Linked DNA regions of Homo sapiens: all the other regions are linked to region 5. Evidence: fine-mapped expression QTL. A gene starts in region 5. Each other region holds a variant in brackets. All regions are shown on one strand. Distances are between the middles of the regions.

Region 1 (5,129 bases), 21 kb after region 5:
CAAATTCCCACATATATATTAGGTCAAGCCAAGTGAAACTGCTGATACCTATCACCTTGACCCAGCTTTATTTTCTCAATTATACCAGTTACTACGAGACATCATATTATGCATTTCTGCTTTTTTTTTTCTTTTGAGACAGAGTCTCACTCTGTCGCCCAGGCTGGAGTGCAGTGGCACGATCTCAGCTCACTGCAACCTCTGCCTCCCAGGTTCAAGCAATTCTCCTGCCTCAGCCTCCCAAGTAGCTGGGATTATGGGCATGCACCACCACACCTGGCTAATTTTTGTATTTTTAGTAGAGATGAAGTTTCACCATGTTGGCCAGGCTGGTCTTGAACTCCTGACCTCAAGTGATCCACCCACCTCAGCCTCCCAAAGTGCTAGGATTACAGTCATGAGCCATCACGTCCAGTCTGTATTTATTCTTAAAGTATATTATTGCTTGTGTTTGCAGGGAGCAACCTTGAGGAATGAGGAACTATCTTCCTAAAGAGCAGGCTTGCTTATTCCCTGCTGTGAAAGGGGTGGGTTCCCCAAGCTCAGTGTTCCCCTAGATGCCACACAAACCCACAGCATCCACCAGGGCCCTCCACATTGCCCCCTGGAGGACAAGGGGACAGGGGGACGAGGGAGTCAATATAAACATGCTGCCTAGGCTGCTTGCTGTGCCTTAATAAAGTCCTTTGTCTCTGACTCGGGAGTCTCATCTTTGCCAGCATGCATGAAACAGTAAGAGGCGAATTATTCACACATCAGCAGGGAAAATTCAAATGCCAGGCCCTGACAGTTTTGGCAATGAGGACAGGCTGCTGATAAACATGACTTTCTGGAAGAGGAAGGATAAGGACCTTATGGACCAGATTAGGGGATATGAAAAGACTCCTTGGCATATGTTAGTGGATCCTCTCACCCAAATGGTGGGTGGCAGGGGTAGGGTGGATAGGATAAGGAGCTCACACTGTCCTACCTTAATGAGTTTAAGCAACGAGAGGTAGGGTTGAAACAAGCCACTCAAACGGTGCTTCGTTTCTTGCTCAGGAGGAGGAAGGGATGTTATGACAAGGGGGCAGCAAGCCCCACAGCTGCACTCAAAAGGCAACATGGATGTGGCTGCTGAGTCAAAGAATCCCCAAAGCTGAAATACATGGTATCAGCCATCATGTTTGATACAGAGCTTCACAGTGACCCCAAAACACTACAAGGTATTTGGATAAGCCCCACAGGTGGCCACTGGAAGCCTTGCTCACTGGCACAGGCTCGCTCTCTCCCCTGTGTTCCCCAATCCCTCTATTCCCGCTCTACTCCACCTCCGGCTGCTTTTATTTAATTTATTAATTTATTTATTGAGATAGGGTCTTGCTCTGTCACCCAGGCTGGAGTGCAGTGGCATGATCACGGCTCATTGCAGCCTCGACCTTTTGAGCTCAGGTGATCCTCCCACTTCAGCCTCGCTAATAGCTGGAACCACAGGTGCACACCACCACACCTGGCTTATTTTTTGTAGAGCCGGGGTTTCGCCATGTTGCTCAGGCTGGTCTTGAACTCCTGGGCTCCAGCGATCCACCTGCCTTGGCCTCCCAAAGTGCTGGGATTACAGGCGTGAGCCACCGTGTCTGGCTCAGCTGTTGTAATGAAAAAGTTGAGTATGCTGGGGAACTTCACGGAGGCAAAGTCCTCAAAACTTGTATATCTCTGTTGGGCCCAAGTGCCCAATTCACCATCTTACCTAGTTCCGTGGATGGGTGCAGAGATGGCTGAAGGCACCACCCCAGGACTGCAGTGTGGACTGGGGACAAAATGAAAGGGGCCTCGGGGCTTGGGAACTCTCTGGATGGACACTGGAGCTACACAGAGGAAGCAGCAGCAATGCCAACCCTGAAGCCAGGGGCCAAGGAGAAATAAAAGCCTCCTAGCTGCACCCTGTGAGCTAGCCTGAGCTCCCGGCAGCTGTTGCTTTTGCTCCTGATGTGCACACACTAAACACCTTGGTTTGTTTTCCCAGAAGGTAAAAAATCCCCCAAGTTCAACTGATAGGCTTTGAGCAAAGTTTGCAGTGGAAGAAGGCAAATTAAGTAACGCTCCATGTGGGGCCCTTGGGCCAATTCAGTGGCTTTCACTGCAAATGTATTACTGGTATTGATGCTCATACCGGCCTGTACTGCCAATGCCCATAAGTGTCAGATGGGATTCGCCCTTTCAGAGACTGCCACATGTGGAAAGGTGGTTTCTGAACCCTCTTAGATGGTCCAGGAGAAACAGTTTAGACTTTCAAGAGGGAGGCCAGGTGCAGTGGCTCATGCCTGTAATCCCAGCATTTTGGGAGGCTGAGGCTGGGAGATGACGAGGTCAGGTGTTTGAGACCAGCCTGGCCAACATGGTGAAACCTGGTCTCTACTAAAAATACAAAAAGTAGCCGGCCGTGGTGGCGGGCGCCTGTGATCCCAGCTACTCAGGAGGCTGAGGTAGAAGAATCGCTTCAACCCAGGAGGAAGAGGTTGTAGTGAGCCGAGATCGTGCCACTGCATTCCAGCCTGGGCGACAGAGCAAGACTCCATCT[G/GA]AAAAAAAAAAAAAAAAAATCAGGAAGGAAAAGGGAAATCTGAAAATTAGTCTCAAAGGTGGCCAGATTACTCAGAGGCTGTTCTCAAGCACAATAGCACCACCTGCCTGACACACTCACCAAGCACATAGCTTTAAAAAAATTGTTTAGAGGCCAGGTGCAGTGGCTCACGCCTGTAATCCCAGCACTTTGGGAGGCCGAGGCAGGTGGTTCACCTGAGGTCAGGAGTTCAAGACCAGCCTGACCAATATGGTGAAACCCTGTCTCTACTAAAAATACAAAAATTAGCCGGGCATGATGGCATGCGCCTGTAGTCTCAGCTACTCCGGAGGCTGAGATAGGAGAATTGCTTGAGCCCAGGAGGCGGAGGTTGTGGTGAGCTGAGATCACGTCACTGCGTTCCAGCCTGGGTGACAGCGAGACTCGGCCTAAAAAAAAAAAAATTGTTTAGAGAGTGGTTGCTGATCTGTCACCCAGGCTAGAGTGCAGTGACACCATCAGAGCCCCCTGCAGTCTTGAATTCCTGGGCTCAAGCCATCCTCTCACCTCACTGTCCTGAGCAGCTGGAACGACAACTGTGAGCTACCATGCCCGGCTAATTTTACAAAATTTTTCATAGACGTGGTCTCTCAGGCTGGTCTTAAACTCCTTGCCCTCAGGTGATCCTTCCATCCCACCACACCTGGCCCCATCCCTCCCCCATCCCCCTTTTTTGTTTGAGACAGTCTCTCTCTGTCGCCCAGGCTGGAATGCAGTGGCACAATCACAGCTCATTGCAGCCTGGAACTCCTGGGCTCAAGCAATCCTCCCCACTCAGCCTCCTGAGTAGCTTGGTGCCTGCCACCACGTACCATGCCAGCTAATTTTAAAAATACATTTTTGTAGAGATGAGATCTTGCTTTGTTCCCAAGGCTGGTCTTGAACTCCTGGCTTCAAGTGATCCTCCCTCCATAATCCCAAAGCCCTGGGACTACAGGCCTGAGCCACCACATCCGGCCCCATCCCCTCTTTTTTATTTTATTTTATTTTATTTTATTTTATTTTATTTTATTTTACTTTATTTTATTAAGACAGAGTCTTGCTCTGTCTCCCCGGCTGCCAGGCTGGAGTGCAGTGGCATGATCTCAGCTCACTGCAACCTCCACCTCCCAGGTTCAAGCTATTCTCCTGCCTCAGCTTCCCGAGTAACTGGGACTACAGGCATGCGCAACCACACCTGGCTTTTTTGTTTGGTGGTTGTTTTTAAGTAGAGACAGAGTTTCACCATGTTGGCCAGGCTGATCTTGAACTCCTGACCTCAAGCGACCTGCCCTCCTCGGCCTCTCAAAGTGCTGGGATTACAGGCATGAAACACCATGCCAGGCCCCCATCCCCTTTTTAAAAAGGTGCCCACTAACTTGTTACTGACCCAAAAAGTTCCTGTGACTCTCCAAACTGACACTCCCATTTTGGGATGGGTCAACTTGGATTTGGTGGCTACTAAGGGAGGGGCACAAAAGGCATTATTAATCCAATGGAAATACTGTATTCAGTAACACAGCTGGCCTGGTCCTAATATTAGCTGGGTTTTACATGAAAAAGTGGCAGCAAAAATCCCTTCAGGGGAAATCTTTTCCTAACTTCACCACTTGAAGCAAAGCTGCTGGCTCAATGGGGCCCTCAAGTCACAGAGGGTTCCCTAGGCACCTGGCCTGGTACAATGATGGTTTGGCTAGGCTGACACCTTATAGTGTCCACGTTCAACCTCAGCACCAGCTATGCAGAACCAAAAACAGGCATGGGCTGGGCGTGGTGGCTCACGCCTGTAATCCCAGCACTTTGGGAGGCCGAGGCGGGTGGATCACTTGAGGTCAGGAGTTCCAGATCAGCCTGGTCAACGTGGTGAAACCCCGTCTCTACTAAAAATACAAAAATTAGCCGGGCGTGGTGGCGTGCATCTGTAATCCCAGCTACTTGGGAGGCTAGGGGAAGAGAATTGCTTGAACTCAGGAGGCGGAGGTTGCAGTGAGCCGAGATCGCGCCATTGCACTCCAGTCTAGGCAACAGAGCGAGACTCCATCTCAAATTTAAAAAAATAATAATAAATAATAATTTTTTAAAAAAAGCAAGCATGACTGCTCCACTCAATGGACAGAGCTCAAGGGAGTGCTGATAGTTCTGGCCAATACTCCCCGTGATGAACCCTTCTACATTTTTACTGCCTTTTGTGTGGTTGCCAATGGCCTAGCTATCTTGCCCACAAGACTGGAAGATTAAAGACATTCCCTATTGCAGCTGCATATTGTGGAAATAATTTCAGCTGCCAATCAGATGCCCAAGTTACTCACAGAGATGCCCATGGTAAGGGCCCTTCTCTAATGAGACAAACTGTAGTCAAGCTGCTGATCCAGACTTCACTGCCCATACCACCACCATCACCACCTAGATCCGTCATCGAACAAGACATAACAACACATTCACCATCGTGGACTGAGCACAAAATCAAAAACTGTTTCAGGCCAGGCGCAGTGACTCACACCTGTAATCCTAGTACTTTGGGAGGCCAAGGCAGGCGGATCACTTGACGTCA
Region 2 (5,129 bases), 29 kb before region 5:
TGCAGTGAGCCGAAATCATGCCACTGCACTCCAGACTGGGCAACGAGCAAGACTCTGTCTCAAAAAATAAAAAATAAAACCCCTAATGGAGCTTGGCTGATTGGATTTCAAAATTGCTTGAGGTTGGTGATTCTTTCTTCCTTCCATTTTCTCCTTTTTGGTATTGGAAAGTTTATAACTGTTATCCTATGCCTGCCCCAGGTTAGTTTCAACCCAGTGAATCCCTTTCAGACTTCTGGCCTCCAGAACTGTAAGATATTAAATTTGTATTGTTTTAAGCCACCAGCGTGACAAACAGCAGGCACTAGAATCTGATACACCATCTAATTCAACGACAAAATAATCTACATTCAACTGTCACATAAAAGCCTAACACGTAAACTTAACTTTTCTCATTTGTACATGGCGGGTATGCACTGGAAATAAAAATAATAATAATAATAAATGAAACATTGTCATACAGTGATGTGCCTGGCACTTGAAATGCCATCATGCTATAACTGCGTCATTGCAATTTGTGGTGTGCTGGGCAACAGTTGTAAGCAATGAGATGGCCACAAATGGTCTCTGACACAACTGCTCTTCCCTGTCATTATAGCACAAAAAATGAGTGAGCATGGCTGTGTTCCAATAATACTTTATTTACAGACACTAAAATTTTAATTTTATACTTCAATTTTTACATGTCACAAAATAGTATTCCTGTTTTGACTTGCTTTCAACTACTTAAAAATGTAAAAATGATTCTTAGCTCACAGACCATATGAAAACAGGTGACAGACTAGGCGCAGTGGCTCACACCTGTAATCCCAGTACTTTGGGAGGCCAAAGCAGGTGGATCACCTGAGGTCAGGAGTTCAAGACCAGCCTGGCCAACATGGCGAAACCCCGTCTCTACTAAAAATACAAAAATTAGCCGGGCGTAGTGGTGCCTGCCTGTAATCCACCAGGCATTGTGTGTAAACTCTGGAGGCTGAGACAGGAGAATTGCTTGAAACCCAGAGGCAGAGGTTGCAGTGAGCTGAGATTGCACCACTGCACTCCAGCCTGGACGACAGAGAGAGACTCTGTCTCAAAAAAAAAAGAAAGAAAGAAAAGAAAAGAAAGAAAAAGAAAACAGGTAACAAGCTGAATTTGTCCATGAGCCATTGTCGGTGAACTCCTCATCTATACTTTACACAGAAAATGTTTAGCTGCAAAATTTTGAAGGGCGCTTATAACTTAACAGCACTACACTCAATGTTTTATATCAATTCTCATCTATATCCTCTAAACAATCTTCTGAGATAAATACAATTATTATACTTAAAATACCATATTATACTATAGTATTATTATACTACATTATACAGATGGGGAAACTGGGGCAGAGAAATTTTCAATACCTTGCCCAAAGGTATTGAACTTCTGCAGATATTGAACATCCAATAGAACTTACTGTAATGATGAAAACATTCCATATCTGCATTTCTAACACAGCAGCTACTAATCATATGACTATTAAGCACTTGAAATGTGTAACTAAGAAACTGAATTTCAAATTTGACTTCATCTTAATTTTTATTTTTAATAGCCACATCAGACAGCACAGCTTTCGTGGGGAGAACCAGGGCATGATATGAATACAAGCAGAAAGAGAATAATTGTCAGGCCGGGCACAGTGGTTCACGCCTGTAATCCCAGCACTTTGGGAGGCTGAGGTGGGCGGATCATTTGAGGTCAGAAGTTTGAGAGCAGCCTGGCCAACATGGTGAAACACCATCTCTACTAAAAATACAAAAAATTAGGCAGGCGTGGTGGCGCTCACCTGTAATCCCAGTTACTTGAAAGGCTGAGGCAGGAGAATTGCTTGAATCCGGGGGTGGAGGTTGCAGTGAGCTGAAATTGTGCCACTGCACTCAAGCCTGGGTGTCAGAGTGAGACTCCATCAAAAAAAAAAAAAAGACAGAGAGAGAGAGAATAATTGTCCACGTGTCTCACCAGTGATAAATGGGGGATCAAGGATTTAAACCAGGAATTTCAAACCCCGTATTCCACCTCTTGGCACCAAAATTATCAACCAAGAGCCAGCAGCATCCAGGAGTCTCTGGGCCAGCATTTGTAGAAGTAAATCTGCATAATGGTTCTTAGGTATTTGAAGAAAATAAAAATTACAGTTGTGAACTGTCCAGGAGCCTGTCCTAGGTGATCCAATATCTCCTAGACTTAAAATCTGAAGGTTAATTCTAGGTATTTCTGAGAGACACTCAGGTTGTCCAGCACATCAGCTTCTGCAGAACTGTTTCCCAGGCCCAAAGGAAGCTCCATGTTGGCCTGGTAGCTACAAACACAGACAATTTCTCCAGTTAGAATACATGAGGAAAACCATTTTTTTCTGGCTGAGGAAGGTGTCAGACACAAAAGACCAGTGAAGGCTAAGAGGTTGTAAGTTACTTAGGATAGAAAGCCGGTGAGCCGTGTGCCGACCCAGCTGTCACCCTAGCCAGAATGGCAGCCCCTCAGGGGGAATTTTTTACTTGCAGTTCATTTGGAGCAGAGCTCTGGTTCTTCCAGGAAAGCAGTGGCAGGCAGCAGCCCTGGACCTGGGTAGGGGGGCCATGGACACAGCTGTGAATGCCACAGGCACATGGCAGCATGTTATATTGTGTCCTCTCCTTTTTCCAGTGGGAAAAACAGAATGTACGATGTCCTCCAAGAGACCATTGAAAACGATTTCCCAACCTTCCTGGGCAAGATCTTTGCTTTCCTCGCCAATCCAGGCCTGATCATCCCAGCCATCCTGCTGATGTTGTAAGTTAGCCAGGACCC[A/C]TGGCTCCACCCCACGGAAACTTCTCCTTGAATTTGAGACTTCCTTGGCAGGTCCTTTTCATCTTGCCTTCTTAGTCTGCACTCCCCAGAAGCAGAATCCATGACAAGGATTCAAGTGTAAGTATTTTATTAGGGAGGGGGTGAGGACTTGAGACAAGGAAGGGAAAGGAAAATGCATGGTTATCACTGTGAGAATTCTGGGAGGCAGTGTGCCTCAGACTCAGCCCTCCCTAAGGGCAAAGGATCCGAGGCATTTATAGACCAGCTCCCAGCGTCATTCATGGGTAAAATGGCTTCAAGGGGTGTGAGTGAGGGGTCCAAGAGGGAAGGGAAGCTTCTGGTAACAGAGATGAGGGCACCAGCAAGTGCAAGTCTTTTGGAGCACACTGAAAATTTGGGTGAGCCCTGACAGTATCTGCAACAACTCCCACTAAAATGCTCACTAGAAATATCAAAGTCCTGTGGGCTCTGAGCCTATCAGGAAGCTGAACGGTGATTCGGCCTGATCCTGGCTGGGCCCACAGCACTACTCGATGGAGCAGCTTATACACTGGAACAAGCTGGTTCCTTCATCACTGTCCCCCTCAACAACCATTAGAGAACAAGTTCGAAAATCTCTGTATCCCCGGTGCCAGCCTAATGCCTAGAGCATAGCAGGCAAACAGTAAATGCTCAAGGAAAGAACTAGGGAAGAAAGGCAGGAAGCCAGAGTCTTGGATTGGAATTGTTGCCATCAAAAAATGTGCTAGTAAAAATGTTAGCATTTTTTCTTTATTTAAAAAAATCTTATTTTGGCATGCTTTTTTAAAAATTATGAAATATTCCCAGCATACAAATGAGTACAGACAACCATGTACACGATCACAAGATTCAACAGATGTTAACATTTTGCAATATTTACTTCAGGTTTATCTTTCTTCGTAATAGAAATAAAACATTACAGATGCACTTCAAGCCCCACTCAATCCTTCTTTCTTCCTCCCTCCCCAAAGGTAACTATTATACAGACTAGATTTAATTATTTCCATGCATATTTTGTACTTTTTAATCACATGTGTGTATAGTACTGTTTCCGGAGTTTTAAACCTTTTCATGAATGACTCACATTACATGCTTTTCCTCAAACAACATTATGTTGGGGGATTTATCCATGCGGATACATGAGCACATGTTTGAAGGCTCTACTATGTTCCATCTCATGAATAAGCCACAGTTTATCCATTCCTCTGCATAGGGATAGTTAGGCTGTTTCCACTTTTCGGCTATTGCAAACTGCGCTCCAGCCAACATTTTGTATATATCTCCTTGCACAATTCTGAGAGTTGCTCTAAGGTAGACATCTAGAAGCAGAATTGTGGGTCATCAGCATGTGTTTCTTCAATCTTTTTAGATCTTACAGAATTGCTCTCCAAAGTGGTTGTATTCCCTTTGGACTGTTATTTATAAATTCCAACTCTCCGGTGAAATTCTCCAGCTTTCTATTTTCTTGAACATAGTGGTTATAATTACTTTTAAAATCCCAGTCTGATATTCCAATATCTGAACCACCTGGGTGTATTTTTGTTGTCATTTGTTTTCCTCTTGTTTATCCTCAGCCCTACTTTTATCATGGCATGTAATTTTTACTAGATGTCAGACATGTGGATGAAAAATTATAGAGGCTGTGAATAATGTTATCTTTCCCCAAAGGGATGGGTTTTTTTTCCTGAAGGGCAAATGGAATACTAGGAGATCACTTAATCCTGTCAAGACTTGATGTTTTAGCTATCTATTATTACATAAGAAACAACCCCCAAAACTGAAAAATAATATTTTATTAATGAATCTGCAATTTGGGTAGGACTTAGCAGGAATCATTCTTTTCCTCTCTACTCAACATCATCTGGGTCAGCTCAGCTGGAGGCTGGAGGGCCCACTTTCAAGATGGTCACTCACATGACTGGCCAGCTGGCACTGGAGGCCTCACTTCCTTCTCACAAGCTGCTTGGGCTTCCTCATAGTATGGTGGCTGAGTTTCAGGAGCAAGCATCCCAAGAGAATGCAGTGGATATACATGGCATCTTTACTTACTCCTGCCATACTCTATTGAAGCAATCACAAAGGGATACCCAGGTTCAAGAGAAAGAAATATAGACTTATCTTTTGATGAGGCAATGACAAGATTCTAGAAGCACATGTAAGACAGGAGTCATAGTATTGTGGCCATCTTTGGAAAATAGTTTGCTATTGCTAGCTTTGGGCTTTCTCAGGGCTGATTTATTTCAGTTTTGCCCTATTTCCAAGACACTGACCTTACTCCTACAATGTGATCCTTACTATTG
Region 3 (5,129 bases), 94 kb before region 5:
CAGGCTGGAGTGCAGTGGTGCGATCTCGTCTCACTGCAACCTCCACCTCCTAGCGTCAAGTGATTCTCCTGCCTCAGCCTTCCCAGTAGCTGGGATTACAGGCACGTGCCATCATGCCTGGCTAATTTTTAATAGAGACGGGGTTTCACCATGTTGGCCAGGCTGGTCTCGAACTCCTGACTTCATGATCCACCCACCTCAGCCTCCCAAAGTGCTGGGATTACAGGCGTGAGCCACCAGGTTTGGCCTATTTTTTCTTTATTTATTGCTTCTTGAATGCTCTTCCTTTATGTAAATCCAAGTTTCTGACCTATGTCGTTTTCCTTCCCTCTGAAGAACCTCCTTTAACATTTTGAGGGGCTGGACAGGGTGGCTCATGCCTATAATCCCAGCACTTTGGTAGCCTAAGGCAGGAGAATCTCTTGAGGCCAGGAGTTTGAGATCAGCCTGGGCAAGATAGTGATACTCCATCTTTAAAAAAAAATTGTTTTTTAATTAGCTGGGAGGCTGAGGCAGGAGGATCACTTGAGCCCAGCAGTGCAAGGTTATAGTGAGCTATGATGGCACCACTGCACTCCAGCCTAGGCAACAGAGTCCCTGTTTCTAAATGAAAATAAAATAAAACTTTTTTTGCAAGGCAGGTCTACTGACAACAAATTATCTCCGTTTTTGTTTGTCTGAGAAAGTCTATCTTCCTCACTTTTGAAGAATACTTTTGATGGATACAGAATTCTGTCCTTTTTTTTTTTTCCGTCAGCACTTTAAATATATCACTCTACTCTCTTAACTTGCACAGTTTCTGGAGCAAAATCTAGTGTAATTCTTATCTTTATACCAACAGGTAAGGTGAGTTTTTTCCTCCAGCTTTTTTCAAGATTTTATCTTTGTCTTTGGTTTTCTGCAGTGTGAATACGATATGCCTAGGTGGAGATTTTTGGCATTTATCCTGCTTGATGTTCTCTGGGCTTTCTCGATGTGTGGTTTGGTGTTTGTCATTAATATTAGAAAATTCTTAGCAATTATTAATTCAAATATTTCTTCTGTTCCTTTCTCTGTTTGCCTTCTGGCATTCCCATTACACATATGTTACTCCTTTTGAAATTGTCCCACAGTTTGGGGATATTTTGTTCCATCTCTGAAATTTCTTTTCTTTTTGCTTTCAGTTTGGGAAGTTTCTATTGACATATCCTCCGCCCACTGACTCTTTCCTTGACTGTGACCAGTCTACTAATGAGCCCATCAAAGGTGTTCTTTACTTCTATTATAGTGTTTTTGGTTTTTACCATTTCTTTTTTATTGTTTCTTAGAGTTTCAATCTCTTTGATTACATTACTCATCTGTTCTTGCATGTTGTCCATTTTATCCATTAGATCTGTTAACATATTAATCAGTTATTTTTATTTTATTTTGTTTTCTTCAGATGGAGTCTCGCTCTTGTCGCTTAGGCTGGAGTGCACTGGTGTGATCTCAGCTCACTGCAACCTCCACCTCCCGGGTTCAAGCGATTCTCTTGCCTTAGCCTTCCAAGTAGCTGGAATTACAGACATGCACCACCACGCCCAGCTAATTTTTGTATTTTTAGTACAGATGGGGTTTCACCACCTTGGCCAGTCTGGTCTCCAACTCCTGACCTCACAGTGAAAATTTGGTAGGGCTCCTGGAGGTAAAACTGATGAAAGTGCGCCCCCACCAAGGCAGTCATTCTCACCCAGACCAGAAGCTTTCAGAATAGGTGGCCTTTGGACCTAGAGGGAGAAGAGATTTCTTTCCTTAGCCATTGCAAGGTTTGTGGATGAGACCCCAATAACAAAAGACAGATTAACAAGATAAACGCATCCAATTTTATTTAATGTAAGTTTTAGGGAACACAAGAGCCTTCAGAAACGAAGACCCAAATATACAGGGAAAACTGTATTTTTATGGAGAGTTGTGCAGAAGTATGATCGGAGGACAAAAGGGTATGATGTCATGGTAATCAACCAGGGGGAAGTAGCAAGGCCTGTTTGTTCCGATTCCTCTTGGCCTCTCTGTGTGACTTTCCTTTCCTTGGGTATAGGGCAGGACACCTGTCACAGGAGGTCTTCAAGGGAGACGGGAGGGAGAAGGCCAGAGAGTGACCTTCCTGCTTCTGCAGTTTTCTTAGTTTCCTTCAGCTTAAAATACTCAACATGCCAAGGTGCCATACTTTGGGGTGTCCTGTTCTGAGCCCCGCAGAGCTCACAAGCTCTCGGAATCATCTTGGACGTCTGATTTCTCACGGCCGGGGACATTTTCCTGGGCCTGAGGCCGTTGGAACCAGAACTGTCCATTTTCCCGCCCCGGCAGGTGACAGGCTGGGAAGGAGATCCTCAAGCAAGCGGGCTCTCAAAGCCGAGGGGACCCCAGGCAGGCGCGGAGCTCAGCGAAGCCAGAAGGAGCGCGCCGGGGGCAGCCCAAGCCCGGGGTCTCCCCGGAGGAAGCAAACAGGGCGCAGGAGACACAGAGAAGAGCTGGGGGAGCAGGAGCGGGGCGAGGCAGAGAGGACCTGCGAGGGCAGGAGAAAGCGCGACGAGAGGGCCTCCTTCCAGGAGCGGACAGCAGCCCCAAAGAGGGAAAAGGAGATTCCGAGGAGGGAGGAGAAGTCGAAGCGGCAGAAGAAACCCAGGTGTGTT[G/A]TGGCTCCGATTCTGGGCATTCGCTCCGCGCGCTCCCGCTCCTTCGCGGCCCTTCCCCTTCCCCCGTGAGGGACTGATGCCCCCCTCCCCGGGGAGAGGCAGCCCGTGCCCTCGCTCTGGCTTCCGTGCCTCCCAGCCCTTACCACTGCCCCACTCTGCGGTGGGTTCTTCATCCCAGAACCGGGATGAAGATCGCGGGTCCGCGCGGGGGAGTGGCCGCGGGCTCTCCACTCCAGCGCCTCGTGGCACCCGGTGAGGCGGGGCGCGGGTGGAGAGGTGGCGGGGCGCGGGTGGAGAGGTGACAGGGCAGCGGGTGGGACACGATCCCGCGTCCCCTGAACTCCAGCTGGTGACTCACCCCGGCTCTCGAAGAGGAGGAGCTGAGCGACATGAACAAAATCGGACTCAGGAACCATCTGAGGGCTTAAGCACACCTCGTTCCGGCTTCCGGATCTGGGCCAGTTTCCTCTGCTGGAAATGTGGCACTGGTCCAGGAGACCTTCAAGGATGCTACCAGCTCTGAAATTCTGGAGCTTGGAGGTTTTATTTGTTTTGCCTCCTTTGTTCCATTACCATTGGCACCAACTAGCACGTGTGGGTTAGTGGACAGGGCCAGCTTATGGCATCAGAAAGTGAAGATTTGGGGTTCATGTTTTTGTTATCAATTTTAATAGGTGTCTCTCTCTTTGCCTCCCTTTTTCAGTCATTGAGGATAACAGATGCCTTATTCGTTGCTCATATTGTTTTAAGAATTCTTTGTGATAGAATAGGAATTCTTTTGCAACAGTTGGGAATATTAGGATTATGGTGAAGAGTTGATGTTCTTTCCCGGTGGTTTGTAGCAAATCCTTTTTGCCCACAGCCTCAGTTGGGTGCTCCATCTTCCTCTCCACCTTTACAGAGAGGCTTTTAAACAAGGGCACTGATTTTTTTCCTGTCGCCATGCCAACCATCCTGGCTTGGTTACAGCCTTTGTCTACTGTCTGGTTGCTCCCAGACATGAACTAAAGAGGTAAAGGGTGCATCGTGCCCTTGGCCATTTAAAAATAACGTGAATGCACCGTTGATGGGCCCTGGGTGCCCTGAACTTTAGAGGGAGCCTGTACCATCCCAATGGGCCACAGACTCATTTATGTCATTTTCAGCTGAGGGCCATGCCAAGGCATTAGAGAGATGAAAACATTCAGTTCCCGTTGCCTAGATACTGACAGTGTGGCAGAGGAGATAACACATAGGCATTGGTAATCCTAAGACAAGGCAGAAAGCAATATGCATGCAAGACAGGACTTGATGGAGCGCTGAATTCCCCGGGTGCTGGGCCATCAGGGTTCCTCCATGGAGAAGGTGAACATCCCAGTGAGGCTTTGAATAACAGGTGGAATCTAAATAAGCAATGACTGAATGTCCAACACCCCAAACTGTGGGAACACCCTACGCAGAGACTCAAAGGCAGATATCATCAATTGGGTGTGCATGAAGTATGGCAAAAAAAAAAAAAATATCTCTGTGTTCTAGGCTTTTCAACCTTCAAGGGCATCCTAAAACTTCTTCTTTGCTCCCCAGGAGTTAATCAGAAGCTAAAACACCCAGAGGCTGCTGCAAACCTGTCTCTAAAACCTGCAGTAACCCAAGCCCACACCCTAATACTACCATTTATGAAACACACTCAGGCTGCCCAGCCATAACCCTTCCTTAGTCCTTTCCTTTACCTACCCGATTGGGCGCTGTCTCACTCAGCTGAGAGTCACTATTTTTCATCACTAAAGGAGTCAGAGGCCGGGCGTGGTGGCTCACGCCTGTAATCCCAGCACTTTGGGAGGCCGAGGTGGGTGGATCGCGAGGTCAGGAGATCGAGATCATCCTGGCTAACATGGTGAAACCCCATTTCTACTAAAAATACAAAAAATTAGCCAGGCGTGGTGGCGGGTGCCTGTAGTGCCAGCTACTCCGGAGGCTAAGGTGGGAGAATGGCGTGAACCCAGGAGGTGGAGCTTGCAGTGAGCCGAGATTGCGCCACTGCACTCCAGCCTGGGCCACAGAGCAAGACTCCATCTCAAAAAAAAAAAAAAAAATGGAGTCAGAATAGGCTGGAGGCTGTAGGGAGCACACACAGACACTTGGATTTTGTGACAACTGAGCACATAGTATTATCTGGGAGATGGGGAGCTCCCCAGCTGGAAATTCTCCACAGCCCTGCTGTCCAATATGACAGCCACTAGCTGCATGTGGCTGCTGAGCACTTGAAATGTGGCCAGTGTGACTGAGCAACTGAATTCCTCATTTAATTGTAACTCAGTGTTAATGCCACTGAGTTGACATAAGAGTTGGTGAATTTACTTAATTTGGACAGATGTAGTTTTGAAACTGATTTGATTTGACTTTGAAGCCAAAACAGTTCTTCTACAAAAAGACAAACTACTGTTGTCAATGCAGATACAAATATCAAAGGAAAACCATATTCTGCTACTTGATTCAGTT
Region 4 (5,129 bases), 37 kb before region 5:
CTATGTATCCCTCATCCTGGCCTGGCCCAGGTAAGGGCCCCAGTACAGGTTTCTGTCACATTTTTTTTCGTTCAGTCACCAGTCTCAGTTTTAAACAAGTCTGCTGAGCTCCTCGGCAGCCAGGAAAGCTTCATAATCTTGTCTGAGAACGAAGATGAAAGAACTTTGTGCTCAAAGAGGATGACATCTTTGATAGAAAGACACAATATTACTAAGAGGTCATTGTTCTTAAATTTGTTTGTAAGATCACCACGATTTCCAAATAATACTAAAGTTCATTTGAAAAATAAGCATGTGAGAATATCCAGAAAAAATATTTAAAAAGAAGAATAAGGCCAGGTATGGTGGCTCACACCTGTAATCCTAGCACTTTGGGAGGCCAAATTAGGAGAATTGCTTGAGTCCAGGAGTTCAAGATCAGCCTGGGCAATTTAGCAAGACCCCATCTCTACAAAAAATAAAAAATTAGCTGGGTGTGCTGGTGCATGCCTGTAATCCCAGCTACTCAGGAGGCTAAGGCAGGAGGATCCCTTGATCCCTTGATCACACCACTGCATTCCTGCCTAGGCGACATAGTGAGGCCCTGTCTCAAAAAGTATATAAAGAAAAAATAAAAAGATGAATAAAAGGAACTAGACTTACCATAATACTAAAACATATGATAAAGCTATAATAACTAAAACTGGTACTAGAAAATAGACCAACATGTCAATGGAACAGAATAGAAAGTCCAGAAATAGATACTATCTACATGGGCCTTTAGTTTATGATAAAGGGAGACTTTCAAACACACTGGGGGGAAAGGATTATATTAAAATATATATAAATTATATAAAAATGTGGGGGATTATATCCCTCATTCATTTCATCTAGATTAATTTTAGGCACATCAAAGTCTTAAACATCAAAAAAATGAAAATATAAATTTCTAAAAGAAAGCATGTACAAACTTAGAATCTTGGAGTGAGGAAGATTTGTCTAAGTAGGACATGAAACCCAGTAGATATGTGTTTTTTTTAACATTTTAAAATATTAAAATTTAAATTCTGGGTGGGGGTGCGGTGGCTCACATTGTAGTCCCAGCACTTTGGGAGGCTGAGGTGGGTGGATCACTTGAGGTCAGGAATTCAAGACCATCCTGGCCAGCATGGTGAAACTCCATCTCTACTAAAAATACAAGAATTAGCTGGGCATGGTGCTGCACACCTGTAATCCCAGCTACTTGGGAGGCTGAGGCAGGAGAATCACTTGAACCAGGAGGCAGAGGTTGCAGTGAGCTGAGATTGTGCCACTGCACTCCAGCCTGGGCAACAGAGCGAGACTCCGTCTCAATAAATAAACATCCAAGACTTCACCCCGTGGACTTAATGTATGCATGTTTCCTTCTTCCATCCATGCATGCTGGCCCTTCCTTTGTCTCTTTCCTAACTTCTCATCTCTCCTTCTTGTGTTCTCATTTCCCTTTATCTCCATTTCTGGAAGACAAATTGGGATGTGGGCTTTAGCATGCTTCATGAGGACCCTCATATCCTCAGTGCTCACAGATTTTATGTTCTTTCAAATATTCGGACAAATCACGAAAACTGCAAATGAGGTAGGCTGAAAATATGAACCAAGCTGGGTGCTTTCCTTTCCGTGAACTGCTCTCAGACTGGAGGAAGAAGAGAAGGAGAAAGAAGAGTTGGAAGGATGATTTGGTTTTTGTTTGTTTTTAAGCTTTCTTTTCTTTTGACTCCTCATTTAATTATTTGCATTTCATTATTTATTAGATTTCTCCTTGATTATAATTTCAGGGTATGTTTCTGATTAAAACGTTGATAAAATGTTCTGTTAGAGGCGAGGGTCTTCCCAAGAACACGCTGTCAGCCTGCAAGGCCTGAAAGATAGAAACTGTCATTTTTTTGTTTACTGAAATAGGCATTTTTAAAGTTTCAGCTTTGAGAATGTCAAATTTTTTGTTTAAAAGTTGAAAACATATTAAAGAAATAGAATGCTAAATCTAAGGTTCTTCTCTAGTTACCAGAGCAGGCTCTTTGGGATGGAATGGCCTTGGCTTGGCCAGTTGGTTGGTAGTAGGGTTTGGCTGAATTCACCAAACGTGCTTTTTTTTTTCTCTCTCTCTCTCGCTCCCTCCCTCCCTCTCTAGCCTTCATATGCTGAGTTTGATATTAGTGGAAATGTGCTGGGTTTGATCTTCAACCAAGGAATGATCTGGTGAGTTATCCATTTCATCTGGTGATCGCCTCATCCAAGGAGTCAAAAAACTGGAATCCCAGACTTTGCAACTTAACTAGTTGGAAGAGGCTAGATAAGTCCTCTTGCCTCTCTGAACTCCCCTCTTTCACATGAAAAATCAAGAGCGGGACTAGATGAGAAGCAGGACAGTTTCTGGCCCACCCATGTGCTACCATAGAAGTAGAGAGAAAGGGAGAGGGGTTGGTGGAGGAGAAAAGGAAAAGGAAGGAAGGCAGGAGAGAAGGAGAAGAGGGAAGAAAAAGGGAAGAAGGAAGAAAGACAAAGGAAAGGGAAAAGGAAGGAGTAAAGAAGAGGAGGAAAAGAGGAGGAAAGGAAAATAAAGAAGGAGGGAGGGAGAAAAGAAGGAAGAGAAGGTGGAAGGTAAATGAACTATGGAACTCCCTCTTCTGAAAAGGGAGTTCAAGGAGGTACATAACTTCAGCCAAAGACTTTCAAGGTGCCAAGGGCTCGCTGCAAGCCACTGTCCAATTCTCTCAATTGAAGGACTTCAAATACTCTTCTGAGCAGCAATGCTGTTTTATGGAAACCGAGGAGAAACAGGCAGGAGACCGTATAATTTGCTAGATGCCTGGGGGCGAGTCAGTGGTAAAATCTTGGCCAGAGCTTAAGCCAGGAATGCTCGGAGTGCCTCCCTCTCCTGAGGACTGCATGGTTCTGGCTTGATGATCGATATTCTGGTTAAATGGGAGGCCCCTTACCTGGGGACTTGCCAGGAAAGCAGCTCGGCCTCATGCCCCTAACCCATCCGTCCCATTTC[C/T]TTCTATCACCCTTCCCTCGCCTTCCCTGCTGTCCAGCCAACCAGGTGTTTGGTTTCTGCCATTCCAGGATGGGCTCCTTCTATGCTCCAGGCCTGGTGGGCATTAATGTGCTGCGCCTGCTGACCTCCATGTACTTCCAGTGCTGGGCGGTGATGAGCAGCAACGTACCCCATGAACGCGTGTTCAAAGCCTCCCGATCCAACAACTTCTACATGGGCCTCCTGCTGCTGGTGCTCTTCCTCAGCCTCCTGCCGGTGGCCTACACCATCATGTCCCTCCCACCCTCCTTTGACTGCGGGCCGTTCAGGTGCAGAGTCTCAGTTGCCCGGGAGCACCTCCCCTCCCGAGGCAGTCTGCTCAGAGGGCCTCGGCCCAGAATTCCAGTTCTGGTTTCATGCCAGCCTGTAAAAGGCCATGGAACTTTGGGTGAATCACCGATGCCATTTAAGAGGGTTTTCTGCCAGGATGGAAATGTTAGGTCGTTCTGTGTCTGCGCTGTTCATTTCAGTAGCCACCAGCCACCTGTGGCCGTTGAGTGCTTGAAATGAGGAACTGAGAAAATTAATTTCTCATGTATTTTTCTCATTTATTTATTAATTTTTAACTGATAGTTGTACATATTTGGGGGTACATGTGATATTTGGATACATGTATACAATATATAATGATCAAATCAGGGTAACTGGGATATCCATCACATCAAACATTTATTTTTTATTCTTTTTAGACAGAGTCTCACTCTGTCACCCAGGCTGGAGTGCAGTGGTGCCATCTCAGCTTACTGCAACCTCTGCCTGCCAGGTTCAAGCGATTCTCATGCCTCCACCTCCCAAGTAGCTGGGACTACAGGCATGCACCACAATGCCCAACTAATTTTTGTATTTTTAGTAGAGACGGGGTTTTGCCATGTTGCCCAGGCTGGCCTTGAACTCCTGGCCTCAAACAATCCACTTGCCTCGGCCTCCCAAAGTGTTATGATTACAGGCGTGAGCCACCGTGCCTGGCCTAAACATTTATCTTTTCTTTGTGTTGGGAACTTTGAAATTATACAATGAATTATTGTTAACTGTCATCTCCCTGCTGTGCTATGGAACACTGGGACTTCTTCCCTCTATCTAACTGTATATTTGTACCAGTTAACCAACCGTACTTCATCCCCACTCCTCTCTATCCTTCCCAACCTCTGATCACCTCATTCTACTCTCTACCTCCATGAGATCCACTTTTTTAGCTCCCACATGTGAGTAAGAAAATGCAATATTTGTCTTTCTGTGCCTGGCTTATTTCACTTAACATAATGACTTCCTGTTCCATCCATGTTGCTGCAAATGACAGGATTTCGTTCTTAATTTCAATTAAAATAACCACACATGGCTAATGGCTACCATATTCGACAGCACAGTTCTACCCTTTTAACACATGGATAACTTACTACCTGGGATTACTTTACCATAGGATAAGTAATGGTGGATATTCTGAGGATGAATTACCATACACTTACACGTGCCGTTTAAATGTGAAGCAGCTGCAGTGGACTCTTGACAGACCTCAACTGAGCTCTCTGCTCTCCAGAGCATTGGCCTGGGGGTTCAATACATAAGTCAAGCTAGTTGGGAGACTAGATATTGTATAAAAAGACAAATAATTATGTAAGGAGGTAGATCAAGAGATAATGTGCATCTACTGTTCTCTTTCCAAATGCCTGACCTTCTGAAAACAAAGCCCTCTGCCAACTCCGTAAAGAGAGGTTCTGTGGTTAAAGCAGTTTAGGACGTACTGCCCCTTCTGTCTGCCATTATCTCACTTAGAAATGCTCAATGCACACTCCTTTGTTAAAGGCTCTGAAGAATCATGCAATGAGGTAACACCTGTAAGCTAGTGTCTCCGTCCTTATTGACCACAGAACCCTTTCTGCATGGATCACTCATCCAGGGCTGGAAATAGGGTGAGGCAGGTGAGTGACGCCCTACACTGCACATGAGCAACCCTGAGGGCATTACTTCCTTAAATTGTGCACTCAGGGCCTCACCCGCCTCACTCTAGTCCCAACCCTGCCTGCCAATGAGGAGAAACCCTGTCCCGTAAAAGGGTCGTATATGCAAAACAGCCCCTAAA
Region 5 (5,000 bases):
CACATCCATATCTGATCACAAGCATTGGTTATCTCACCAGCAGAAGCACTTTTCTTCAGCCATCTCTGTAAGTCAGCAAACTACTTCATGACAGCTCCTTTGTAACCAGAGGACCCAAATTTTTCCAGAGTACGACTGGTTACCTTTTGGCTCATTGATTGACCCTCAGGTTTTTTATATTCTGATTTAACACACAAAAGTGTGTTCATATAGTTACATATATATGTATATATGAAAAATATTTGTGTACATATTTCTATATATGTATGTAGAGCTGAGACAAAAGTTTTACAATGAACAGCACCTTACTCTAAGCAACACACTCTTATTTCTATTCGCTTTAATCCTTTTTCTTTTTTTTTTTTTTTTTTTTTTTTTTGACAGAGCCTTGCTCTGTTGCCCAGGCTAGAGTGCAGCCTCTGCCTCCCGGGTTCAAGCGATTCTCCTTCCTCAGCCTCCCGAGTAGCTGGGATTACAGACATGCTCCACCACGTCCAGCTAATTTTTTTATTTTTTGGTAGAGACGGGGTTTCACCATGTTGGCCAGGCTGGTCTCGAACTCCTGATCTTAAGTGATCCGCCTGCCTCGGCCTCCTAAAGTGCTGGATTATAGCCCACCCAATCCTATTTTTTTAAATGCTGTCCATTAATGCATTCTGACTTCTTGCTTGAAAACCCCTGGTTTAGTGGATAAGCACCTGTAACTCCAGGAAGATTCAGGATTAAGGGCAGAAATAATGAAGTAAATTGAAGTATTAGCATTAGTATTTTCCATTACATTTTGGAATCGTCTATTTTGATGTATTCACGACGGTTAAAATAATTTAACATGCTAATGTATGGATTAACTTGGCAATTCCATTTTAAAATATTAAATGGAATAACGATTCTGACTCGTAAGTAGACATGTGTAACAGAATTCAACCACATCTGTAAACCATATTGAAATTATGAGAGTAAGATTTACCAACCACATTTAGGTTTGACATATTAGATTTGTGAGTGAACTATGTACTTGGATTTTGTCAAGTAACTCAATCGCTTAACAAAATAACAATTAAATGTATAAATGCAGTTTATAGCTATACATTATTTTTAAAAATCCCCTTCGAATGACTCTTTAAAACATACCAGGGGATACGCTACTTAAGTATAACTAGGTTTTGGATTTATAACGTTAATATTAATTATTAAAGCAAAACTCATTTCTAAAGAGTCGCCTGAGTGCCCAAAAGACGCCCTCAAGGACAGGGAAGCAGCTGCGATTCACTCAGCGATCACCAGCGCCCAGAATTCAGGGCCGCCCAAGCGGAGGAGCAACACGTGGCCCAGCAAAAGGAGCTGGGTCCCGTGCAGCACAGCAACAAGAAACTGGCCTAGGAAGACGCTGGAGCGTCTTTCTTTCGCACGTTACTGCCTGCTACAGTCATTTAAAAAAAAAAAACCAAAAACAAAAAAAAGAAATAAATTAATAGTACGAAGAAAACTGCGCGAGCTACATTCCCAGCAGGGTCTGCGCCAGAGCGCGCCAGGCACCGCTCCCGTTACGGGTGGGAGGAAAGGATGCACCGCCCACCCGGCGCCGGGGAGGCTCGTCCCCGAGTAGGGGACGGGAACGCCTGGGTCCCGGGGACGTGGGGCGCAGGGTCTGGGGCCCGAGGCCACGGACGAAGCGGGAAGCCGGCTAGGCAGCGGTCTCTGTCTGGGATGGACGCCGCGCCCCACGCGGACCTCCCGCCCCGACTTCACCCAGCTCTGCTGCCCGTAACTCATATGACAAGAACATCAGGAACCGGACTATTACCCCGAAAGGGCCTTCCCAAGTCGTTTCGCCGCCTGCAGTGCCCGACCGGGGGCCGCGCGTCCCCGGCAACCACGCCCGCCCGCGCAGCTGCAGAGGCCGGAAAAGGCCCGCTCGCCCGCGCTCGGCACCACCCAGCCCGCGCTCCGGGCGATACCACCCTGGGCGGCCCCTCCAAAGGCCGGAGATGGTGTCGTCCCCGGCCTCCGATTGGTCGGGGGGGCGGGGGCGTGGCCTCTGGAGCCTGGTTCCGCGCGCCGGAGCGCGCTAGCCGCATTGCGAGCCGAACCCGGGAGCTGGCGCCATGGTGAGGAGTGGTTGCGGGGCGCGGGCGACGCGACGGTGGGGGTTTCGGCCTGCGTTCGGGCCGCAGACAGGGCCTGGGCCTGGGCCTGGGCCTGCGCCTGCGCCTGCGCCTGCCCTGGGAACGGGTTCCGGCAGACGCTGAGGTTGCGTTGACGCTCGCGCCCCGGCTCCCGTTCCAGGTGCTGTTGCACGTGCTGTTTGAGCACGCGGTCGGCTACGCGCTGCTGGCGCTGAAGGAAGTGGAGGAGATCAGTCTGCTGCAGCCGCAGGTGGGTGAGATCCGTGGGCTCCTTTGGCGGCCCCGCAGACCCTCATCGCGCGGGTCCCAGCATGCACAGCGCGCTCCCACGTGGCCGGCCGAGCGGTTCGGGGCGGGGGGACGGGCCTGGAAAGCTCTAGATCCGGGGGTCTTTACCTTGACCCATGGGTAGAATCGCTCTAGCAATTAGAAATAAGCCTCCCGGACGCCGCCCCCGAACGATTAAAGCAGAAGCTGGGATGTGGGGCCCAGGTATCAGCATATTTTAAGAGCTTCCAAGGCTGAGAACCGCTGCTTGACTGCGCCGCAGAGGCAGGAGGGAGGGAAGGAAACCACTTAGCCTCTTTCTCCCCCCAGGTGGAGGAGTCTGTGCTCAACCTGGGCAAATTCCACAGCATCGTTCGTCTGGTGGCCTTTTGTCCCTTTGCCTCATCCCAGGTTGCCTTGGAAAATGCCAACGCCGTGTCTGAAGGTAAGTCGGCCACCGCCAAGTGTCACAGAGAGATGTGGTTCCTTTCGGTATCCTCTCGGGCAGCTTGTGATAGTATTTGCCGTCCTTGGCTGGCTCTGAGTCTGATAGGCGTGAGGCAGTATTTGAGCCATACAATGTGTAATTTGAAATAATTGTCTTCACAGAGCTCAAGGTCTGGGAACTGTGCTAGACCAAACTGTTTAAGCAGACGATGTGGAATGTGTGTTAACGTTTCCTTGTGGGCACTGTAGTGACAAACTATTTTTTATTTTTATTTTTTTTGAGATGGAGTCTGTCCCCCAGGCTGGAGTGCAGTGGCAAGATCTGGGCTCACTGCAACCTCTGCCTCCCTGGTTCAGGCGATTCTCCTGCCTCAGCCTCCCGAGTAACTGGGATTACAGGCCTGTGCCAGCCACCACACCCGGCTAATTTTGTATTTTTGGTAGAGACGGGGTTTCACCATGTTGGCCAGGCTAGTCTCCATCTCCTGACCTCGTGATCCGCCCGCCTCGACCTCCCAAGGTGCTGAGGTTGCAGGCGCGAGCGACGGTGCCCGGCCGACAAAGGGGGGTTTCTTAAAGGGGGTCGGCTTAACACCTACTTGTGCCTGAGGTTTTGCCTAAACACAATCAAGTGTCTGGTTCTCTGCTTTCTGTTCGATTGGAAAGGGCAGTTGGGTAAACACAGGCTGAGAAAAAAAGGTTTGGTTCCAGAAGGCAAATTCTACGAAATACTCGAGGGTGTGTTACAAGCTATTATTTATTGCCCACTTGTGCTATCAGACCTGAATGCAGTTGTTCCCATGGCTGGGCCAGGCTTTGCAGTGATGACTTGCGAATCAAATCTGTCAATCCCCTGAGTGCAATCACTGATGTCTCCATGTCTCTGAGCAATGCCTGATGGGGAGGGATCTAGGTATGCCATCCCAGCGTGCTCGGTGGGACCAGGGTAGTCAGCTGAGGGATGTTAGAGTTGATCGTCCTTCAGCCTGTTAGTGGGAACTGTGTTCTTTCCCCTGAGGGGTTGTTCATGAGGACCTCCGCCTGCTCTTGGAGACCCACCTGCCGTCCAAAAAGAAGAAAGTACTCTTGGGAGTTGGGGATCCCAAGATTGGTGCCGCAATACAGGAGGAGTTAGGGTACAACTGCCAGACTGGAGGAGTCATAGCTGAGATCCTGCGAGGTGAGACCATCATCTGTTATATTCCTGTTATCCTGGACATTTTGGGGGAGGAGGTTCTGGAAACTTGGTTGCTTGTTGTGATTTCTGGGAAGGCCTTCAGGCTGGGCTGGTGCCCGTGGGTGCGGGAGCTAGCTCAGAGCCCCTTGTTGCTCACCGTCTTGCCCTCTTCTTAGGAGTTCGTCTGCACTTCCACAATCTGGTGAAGGGTCTGACCGATCTGTCAGCTTGTAAAGCACAGCTGGGGCTGGGACACAGCTATTCCCGTGCCAAAGTTAAGTTTAATGTGAACCGGGTGGACAATATGATCATCCAGTCCATTAGCCTCCTGGACCAGCTGGATAAGGACATCAATACCTTCTCTATGCGTGTCAGGTAAAGTGCAGGGGCCACCCATAATACTGGAGCCTTTGGTCTGTAGTTCAGTTAATTTTGAGTCTTGATGAGGACTGACCATCCTGTGGGTAGAACCATGTGGGCTGGGGCTGGGTGTAGGCCTCCTGGTGCTTACCACAGGCTGTGTTCTTACACTGACTGTATAGAAAGAGGAGGTAGAGTAAACCTACCCCATATACACCTCAGCTCAGGCCCTGTGCCTGGTCTGTATTGTGAATGGGGGAACATAGAATTGAGGAAGATTTGGATCTTTGTCCCATTTCCTCCAGGCAGAGTAGGTGTGGAGAAGGCAAGGCTGTAGCTCTATGGTTTTTGATGAAGCAGCTGGGCCAGGGAGTGACTGTGGCTCTTTGCAGGGAGTGGTACGGGTATCACTTTCCGGAGCTGGTGAAGATCATCAACGACAATGCCACATACTGCCGTCTTGCCCAGTTTATTGGAAACCGAAGGGAACTGAATGAGGACAAGCTGGAGAAGCTGGAGGAGCTGACAATGGATGGGGCCAAGGCTAAGGCTATTCTGGATGCCTCACGGTCCTCCATGGGTCAGTGCAGAGCCTGGCAACCTGCATAAGGTATGGGGCTCTA

Evidence for each region.
Region 1: its variant is fine-mapped to the expression of NOP56 in monocytes (Quach 2016, PIP 0.95).
Region 2: its variant is fine-mapped to the expression of NOP56 in whole blood (TOPMed, PIP above 0.99).
Region 3: its variant is fine-mapped to the expression of NOP56 in whole blood (TOPMed, PIP above 0.99).
Region 4: its variant is fine-mapped to the expression of NOP56 in monocytes (Quach 2016, PIP 0.95).

Annotation. Positions count from the first base shown.
Region 1 is chr20:2,671,590-2,676,718 of GRCh38, forward strand. The region is part of intron 2 of LOC105372507 (a long non-coding RNA gene); the gene reads right to left. Among named protein-coding and RNA genes, the nearest start is that of IDH3B-DT, 9.9 kb to the left of the region's middle. The variant G/GA (reference allele first, on the strand shown) is at 2,561.
Region 2 is chr20:2,621,607-2,626,735 of GRCh38, forward strand. TMC2 (transmembrane channel like 2) reads left to right here. Exons shown (of 20, transcript NM_080751.3): 17 at 2,665-2,790. The region is part of intron 2 of LOC105372505 (a long non-coding RNA gene); the gene reads right to left. Among named protein-coding and RNA genes, the nearest start is that of NOP56, 28 kb to the right of the region's middle. The variant A/C (reference allele first, on the strand shown) is at 2,809.
Region 3 is chr20:2,556,131-2,561,259 of GRCh38, forward strand. TMC2 (transmembrane channel like 2) reads left to right here. Exons shown (of 20, transcript NM_080751.3): 3 at 2,326-2,644. Among named protein-coding and RNA genes, the nearest start is that of TMC2, 22 kb to the left of the region's middle. RefSeq lists an enhancer at 1,909-2,619. The variant G/A (reference allele first, on the strand shown) is at 2,652.
Region 4 is chr20:2,613,991-2,619,119 of GRCh38, forward strand. TMC2 (transmembrane channel like 2) reads left to right here. Exons shown (of 20, transcript NM_080751.3): 15 at 2,147-2,214; 16 at 3,082-3,321. It overlaps LOC105372505 (a long non-coding RNA gene), which reads right to left. Exons shown (of 5, transcript XR_007067502.1): 4 at 4,516-4,595; 5 at 56-142. Among named protein-coding and RNA genes, the nearest start is that of NOP56, 36 kb to the right of the region's middle. The variant C/T (reference allele first, on the strand shown) is at 3,014.
Region 5 is chr20:2,650,556-2,655,555 of GRCh38, forward strand. It overlaps NOP56 (NOP56 ribonucleoprotein), which reads left to right and starts at 2,077. Exons shown (of 12, transcript NM_006392.4): 1 at 2,077-2,108; 2 at 2,287-2,376; 3 at 2,724-2,838; 4 at 3,859-4,020; 5 at 4,194-4,392; 6 at 4,770-4,957. The coding sequence starts at 2,106. It overlaps MIR1292 (microRNA 1292), which reads left to right and starts at 2,222; the gene lies at 2,222-2,287. SNORD110 (small nucleolar RNA, C/D box 110) reads left to right here and starts at 3,657; the gene lies at 3,657-3,731. SNORA51 (small nucleolar RNA, H/ACA box 51) reads left to right here and starts at 4,512; the gene lies at 4,512-4,643. It also overlaps LOC105372505. RefSeq lists a silencer at 1,561-2,200 and enhancers at 2,701-2,790, 4,905-5,000.